2 linked regions of the Homo sapiens genome follow. The protein of the gene in region 2 purifies or fractionates together with the protein of the main gene of each other region. This does not show direct contact. Each region holds a gene or a part of one and is shown on either strand. Other genes may lie near its edges. The genes, in order: ABCE1 and PTER.

Region 1 (3,831 bases), on a different chromosome or scaffold from region 2:
TCTTTTTTTTTTTTCCACTCCACAGCCCCTGCAATAATTTTAAAATTAGAAAGTAATAAGCAAATAATGAATGTTTCAGAGGAAAAATCATTTAAGAGTAGAAATTCCAAAGGTCAAAGTGGGTATCAAGCAACCTTAGGCAATCAGTAAGAGAACACAAAATGCATGATAATGTGCTAGGGATGAATCCTAAGATGGCTTTTCCTTGCTGTTTCAGGATAAGGCTGAATTTTAGAATTTAAAGCTAAGCTTATAGAGAGCATCAATGACAAAACTTTTATGGTAAGCTAAGCCAAGTAGACAAAACATAAATTGAATGTTGAGGTACTGAGGAGTTCATTACAACACCCGCAGAAATCAAAGGAGGTTAACTTTAACAGAATGGTTTCAAGGACTGTGGCATTTGTTAATATTTCATTTCTTTTTATGGCTGAATAACTAAAAGACATTTGCTCATTTTTAATTATAAGAGTTCTTTATACATGCTGGATACAAGTCCTTTATTGGATATATGATGTGCAAATGTTTCTCCCATCTTGTGGGTAAAGCCTTTTCACCTTCTTGCTGTTGTCAATTTGCAGCACAAAATACATTAGGTTTTTAATTATTTATTTAGCAAAAAGATGACAAACATCTTTATTTTTTTATTTTTTTTTGAGACAGACTCTCGCTTTGTCGCCCAGGCTAGAGTGTAGTGATGCAATCTCCACTCACTGCAAGCTCTGCCTCCCAGGTTCACGCCATTCTCCTGCCTCAGCCTCCTGAGTAGCTGGGACTACAGGCGCTGCCACCACGCTCGGCTAGTTTTTTGTAGTTTTAGTAGAGACAGGGTTTCACCATGTTAGCCAGGATGGTCTCGATCTCCTGACCTCGTGATCTGCTGGCCTAGGCCTCCCGAAGTGTTGGCATTACAGGCGTGAGCTACTGCACCCGGCCAAAGATGACAAATATCTTTAAAGCACTTTCTTAGCAGTGGATATGAATCAAGGATTGGACTCTTAATACATTTGTTTGCAACTATCAATAAAACTGTATAGAATCTAATTTGGAGAAAAATTTTAATATAGTAAAAGATGAAAGCTATAGGCATATATACAAAATTTTCTTTAGTAACCATATAAAAAATAATAACTCACAGTTGATTTGGGACTAATTTTCTGTGGCTTATAACTGACATTTAGAACTGGTACTTCTCCTGCAAAATAATGAAATACATAAGACACTAAAAACTGCCCAGATCTTTAAAGTTTACTGTGTAAAACAGAGTAAAAAGACTCAACAGTTACAAATGTACCTCCTTCATCAGGTTTAAGTCTTCCAGCAAGCATTCTGATAAATGTCGTTTTACCCGTTCCTGGCAACACAACATATGACAGTTTGATCTGAAAGATGCTTGACGTTTAAAGTAAATCACTATGTCCTATTTGGTTTTAACTGAGAAATTTGTTTTAAAGATATACACTGACATTATTGAATTCTGAAGTTTATATAGAAAAATACTTAAGTCTTTCATGGCTCACCTCTGAAGTGTCATTCTAAGGTAATTAAGAGGAATAAAGACTAGTCAAAGCTTATGACAATTTTAATAAATGGTATGTCTATAAAGTTTAAATCCTGCAATAGTTTGAAAAGATCTACTTAGCTAAATTATCAGGGCACACAATTTATTAAGACAGTATAGACTGTTTTATGAAAGATAACTGTAATTTTAAAGTTTACTTATATAAAATATTTAAATTAATTGCAACCCAATTCAAAATTCCCATTATCTAAAGACTGATACATTGTAACAATCTTTATATAAAATTTATCTTCTATAGTTTTGTAAGCTGTAAGATTACAATTCAAATAGTTCTTAAATCATGAAGGCAATATCACATATTTAGTAGTCAAATTCATCTTATATCTACACTTATGACAATTTATTATGAAATATATGCTGGTAATACAATTATTTACAAAGGTAGATTGCTCTGAATTTAAAATAAGAAAAGTTCCACATTGAAGTGTATGAGGAAAAAATTTTTAAAGCTGGATTATTTCTGAATCACCATTTATCCTTTCCATCTTAGTCAATTTATAAGATTAATAACTGCCTTATCAATTTACATGTAAAAAACCAGCTGACAAAGAACACCTTATTTTCACTAGAGGTTATAAAACAAAATAAGAACTATTAACCTGATTGAATTACAGTGAAATTGAATTACACAATGCCAAAAAAATGTGAAAGTACACTAAGAAATTTGTGGGTTTAAATAAAACTCTGCTTCTAGCCCTATAACATATGATTCAAATTTTTCCACAAAACAGTTAAAACTAATTTACTAGATAAACAGGAAGATTTTTACTTATCACAAAACAGAAAACTTACCATTTTCCCCCAGCATCACCATAATTTCAGAATCTGTAAACTCTCCAGCTACAATTGCTAGCTCAAATTCTCCCATTTTTTTCTTCATTCCTGGATATTTATACATACACATCTTTTTAACTTCTTCTTCATTTGCTGTCTCAGCCACTTTAAAAACAAGTGATGCATCTCTGAATCTCAAGTTTTCTGTTGGAACATAGCCATCCAAAAAAATGTTTATGCCTGTTGGGAAGAAAATTGTCAACCGGGAGAAATCATTAGAGCCAAAATCCTAAGCTCTCTTGGGAGCAATCTATAGACTATATACTTTAAATTTCTGTGGATTTTTGCTAACATGTTGGTCTGCATATAAAGAAGTAACTTAAAAAACTATATATATTTAATGTAAGTTTAAATAATTCATGAATATATATGCATGTCCCCCCCAACCACATGAAGTACATCTTCTCATTATCCTGTAATTACTTTTTCCATCAGGTTTTATGCAAAAGAGAGCACATGATGTCCTTTTTGCTTTATCTTTAAAGCGAAAATGACAAATATGTAAGAGTATTTTCAGATTGATGTAATATTGATATAAAAGTTTGGGGGATAAATTTTTTAATATACAATGTTATCAATATTTAATTTCATATGAGACATAAGCACATATTTTGAGGTTATAATTTATTGCTTTAAAAAAATTAATCCTGCAGGTTCATATGAAATTGAATATGAGCTAATTCCAGTTAACATTTTTTTAATGGCTTCACTGTACAAAGATAACAACCATTATCTAAACAGATTTTAATAACTTAAATCCACATTGTATACAAGAACCCTCTGTAATAAAATTTTAAGATCTACAATGGCAGACACACTGAAATGAAAAGCGTATTTGAGAAACAATGAATAATCCATATTTCAGTGTTTCCTATATTTAAGTGAAGAGAAAGCTGAAGTTTCTTGGAAGGTCTTGACGTTATTCATTTTATTTGGAACTGAGAGACACATCATGCAGCCTGTATCCTCATCCTAGAACACAGGTGTTCAATACATCTTTGCTGACAGAACAAATGAACAGATTACATTTATTTTGCCAAAATCAGCATGTTTTTTGATCTTAAACTATCTAAAACCTATAAATGTGAAGTTAAAAAATTAAATAAAAACAATTACATAAAAACATAAACTCAAAGGAACCTTAGCAGCCACTTGGTTCAAATACCTAACTTATTTTGGAAAATAAAGGCTCAAAGAACTAAGTGACTTCGTTTAAAAAAAACACAGCAAGTCAGTCTTTACAGTCCTACTTCAATGTTTGTCTTGTCAATTTAAAAATGAGTTCAAACCATAATCACCTTTACAGTTTATAGAAAGCTTTTAAGTATGCTGCACTGATTTCAATATATTAAAGGAACAGAGAAAAACTAAAGTTTCTTAAGCTGTTTTAATAGATCGAGCACATTAAAAACCTT
Region 2 (3,831 bases):
AAGAAATACAGAGTATAGGTAAGAAAGCCCTACATATATCAAATTGGAGTTTGTGATACAGATGATAAATAACATGTGAGTGAAACAGTATTTAAAGAGATAATGGCTGAGGCTTTTCAGAAACAATGAAAGGTACATCCTTACATTCAGGAATCCCAAGGAATGCCAAGCACGCAATTAAAAGAAATTTATGACCAGGTACAATGGCATATGCCTATAGTCCCAGAACTTTGAGAGGCCAAGACGAGTGACTTGCTTGAGCTCAGGAGTTTGAGACCAGCCTCGGCAACAGGGCAAGAACCTATCTCTACAAAAAATATAAAAATTAGCCAGGTGTGGAGGCACATGCCTGTAGTCCCAGCTTCTTGGGAGGCTGAGGTTGGAGGATCACTTGAACTTGGGAGGGTGAGGCTGCAGTGAGCCAAAATCATGCCACTGCACTCCAGCCTGGGCAACAGAGAGACAGACTCTCTCTCTCTCTCTCTCTCTCTCCATATATATATATATATTTAAATTAGTAGAAATGCAGAATACTTGAACATGATAAATGATTATGTTCTAATAGACATATAGAACAATTACACTGTATAATAACTGCAGAATGCAACGCTTTTAAGAATCTAAAACATTTTATAAAATTTAAAAGTATTAGTGTAATACATTTTTGAAGGTATGAGGTACTTCACAATGTTTAAAAAGTATCATCCTTACTCAGTAAATGTGCTACATATATCCCATATCATACAAGGCAACATTATAAAATACATTGTTTTAAATTCAAATTAAGCTGTCCAAGATGTTACACCAATGAGAGTTAGAATTCAAAGTTCTCACTGGGTCCAAAGAGTCTAGTTTTCACAGTCTGATGCATTGTCTCTGTGACCAGTATATAGAAGCATGCCTCTACTTTATCAGTGCAACCAGAAGATTCCTCAAGATAGCCAAGTATGGATCTTGATACCAACCTGGTTGCCAGGAGAATTACCTTTATCCTATTATGCCTCAGTTTCCCCATTAATACTGACTTCTCTGTTCTGCTATAACTACAACTTGTTTATATTTCCTGCACATGATTTCACAGTATTTTTTATTAAGTAAAAGAATTTTTTTTTTCTTGAGACAGGGTCTTGCTCTGTTGCCTAGGCTGGAGTGTAGTGGTCATGGTTCACTGCAGCCTCATAAGGAGAGGCATTTTATCAATACATTTTGCAGGACTGTTAGTTTATGAAATAGCAATCTGTCTGGTCTGATAATCAGGATTTATCAATATGTTAATATGGCTTTACTCCAATAGGCAAGATAGAAGTAACTATAATATATTATTAGTCTCACTGGTGCTGTATTAATTCTATAATAAATTCAACTGAAGGCTAATGAGTAGCCTTAGCAACAGTTAGACTTGTTCATAAAATTAACAGCAGCTGGCATTTCTTCATTTAGTCATTCATTTTACTGTCCCCTATGCATCTAAAATAATATGTAGGGATTAAATGGTGAACCCCAACAAGATAGGTCCATATTCTAACTCTTGGAACCTCTGAAAGTGACATTATTTGGGGAAAAGGTCTGCAGATATAATTAAGTAAATGATCTGAGATGAGATTATTCTGGATTATCTGGACGGGCCATAAATCCAATGGCAACTGTGGTTGTAACAAACAGAGGAGAAGACATAGACAGTGAGGAAAAGGCTATGCGAAGACAGAGGCAAAAACTGTAGTTATGCAGCCACAAACCATGGAACAGCTGGATCTGAGGCTATGGAAGAAGCAAGGAAAGATTCTCCCTGCAGCCTTTGGAGGAAGCGGGGCCCTGACAAAGTTTCATTTCAGACTTCTGGCCTCCAGAACTTTGAGAGACTAAATTTCTGTTGTTTAGGGGCACCCAGTTTGTGATAACTTGTTACAGTAGCAATAGGAAACTAATGCATGATACTACCCAACACATGCTATACTTATTACTATTATTTTTTATAATTGCATTTTCCAAAATTCAGATGATTCAAACCACAAGTGACACAAATGTGAACATTTATATTTGCGGTTTTCTTCTCTGGGTGAAACCATTGACATTCCCTCCCTTTATATGTGTGATAACTTTATTACTCCAACTACTGGTAAACATTGAGCAAGTGGAATTGGCAGCTACTTTGATAGCATCCCATGAGACAAAGAAATGAAGTAGACAGTGACACCTGTTATGAGTTATAAAGGATTGAGTAAATTAAAGGAAATGACTTATGCGAAATATCTTATGTGAAATACCTAGGACACTATCTGACACAGAGGAGGGACACAAAAATGGCAGCATTGACTTTTATTCATGTCAGTTGTGAAACTTTATAAATACTACCTTCCATATAGTTAGTGGTTTTCTCTGCGTGATTAGTATTGCATTGACTGATTACTGTAGATTCTTAATTTGATCATGCATTAATTATATGGCAGTTTGCATCCATTTGTAAGACAGCCTACTTACCTATCCAGGTGTGACATGACTGTTTTGGAGATGTCTGCGCCTGCTTCTTGCAATATTCGGATAATCTGAAATGGTGCCCTGGAGCTCCGTCCAGGATGGATAATAACAGGACAACCAAGCTGAGCCTGGGCATGAGCTGTGGCCTGGAGAACCTTTCTTTCACTCTCAGTCAAAGGCCAGGAGCAACCAATTTCTCCAATAATGCCACACTTGATACTGGTTCCATCAGCTCCATGGAGAATTTCATTCATAAGGACATCGGTAAGCTAAGGAAGAGTGAGAAGGAATATATTTTATAGGTTGTGAAATTTATCAAAATAGATCCACCACAGTATGTGAATGAATTTATTTATTTTGTCATTCATTCTTTTAAAAATGTATTCAGTATTTATCAATTAATATTGGCCAAGGAAAAAGGCATTTTGCTGGCCAAATCAAAAATCAACAAGTTGCACTAAATCCAAGATTCGATAATATCATACCATGATTATTTAACAAGAAATTTATAGCTTTAGGAAGCTGGAGGGGGACAAAGTGACTTAATGAGAGTACATTCAGGATGAAGCAAAAAAAAATCTGTAACTTAACCTGGGGAGCAGCATCTAGAATATAGAAAGACCGCCAATGAATTGAATCTATGTCCCGTGTATCAAGTCATTCTTTTTCTTTCTTCTTTGTTTTTTTTAAAGAAGCAGAGGTCTCACCATGTTACTCAGGCTGGACTTGGAACTCCTGAGATCAAGTGAACCTCCCATTTCAGGCTCCCATGTAGCTAGGACTACACGCTTGCATCACCGCACAAGGCATCAAGAAATGCTTTAATTCTCTCCTATTTATTCCAGTCTTTTATCATAGACAGCATAGAAAATTCACAGCACACTATACTACTATTAGACTTTTGGGTTCATATGTATAGTTACCACTAAAAGTGGTTGGAAGAATATATAATCCTCATCATCAGCATAGTCTTTAAACAACAAAAATACATTAAAAAAATAAAGTCCTGGTTGGAAAATAATGCAGAAAAAATTTTGAAATACAAAATACTCCAGAGAGTAAGTGATCTTTTGCAAAGAATGAGCTGACACCCTATGCCTGTCATGCAGGCAATGGAAGATACATACGAATATATACATATATGTGTAAACATGTATAAATAGATACATGTGTGTTTAGAAAGAGAACACATACACGTGCAAAAAAGGTTTTGCACCTTATTCTTTTTGTCCCTAAACAATTTACTTCCTTCTGCCCATTCTTAAGACCATATTATGACAAAACACAGGGGAATGAATTTTCTTCCACCTCTCCTGTTTTGTGAAAGGAAACTGAAACATATTCACAAATGTGCCA

The links.
Region 1: the proteins of PTER (region 2) and ABCE1 fractionate together in Homo sapiens (co-fractionation; one large-scale study listed by BioGRID). This does not show direct contact.

What each region holds. Positions count from the first base shown.
Region 1 is NC_000004.12:145,118,697-145,122,527, reverse strand, and holds part of ABCE1 (ATP-binding cassette sub-family E member 1), read right to left. Parts: intron 2,597-3,831; coding exon 2,375-2,596; intron 1,355-2,374; coding exon 1,295-1,354; intron 1,196-1,294; coding exon 1,137-1,195; intron 1-1,136. UniProt on the Homo sapiens protein: Nucleoside-triphosphatase (NTPase) involved in ribosome recycling by mediating ribosome disassembly. Able to hydrolyze ATP, GTP, UTP and CTP. Splits ribosomes into free 60S subunits and tRNA- and mRNA-bound 40S subunits.
Region 2 is NC_000010.11:16,485,265-16,489,095, reverse strand, and holds part of PTER (N-acetyltaurine hydrolase), read right to left. Parts: intron 2,745-3,831; coding exon 2,479-2,744; intron 1-2,478. UniProt on the Homo sapiens protein: N-acetyltaurine hydrolase that regulates feeding by catalyzing the hydrolysis of N-acetyltaurine into taurine and acetate. N-acetyltaurine has anorexigenic and anti-obesity effects that are dependent on GFRAL receptor and GDF15.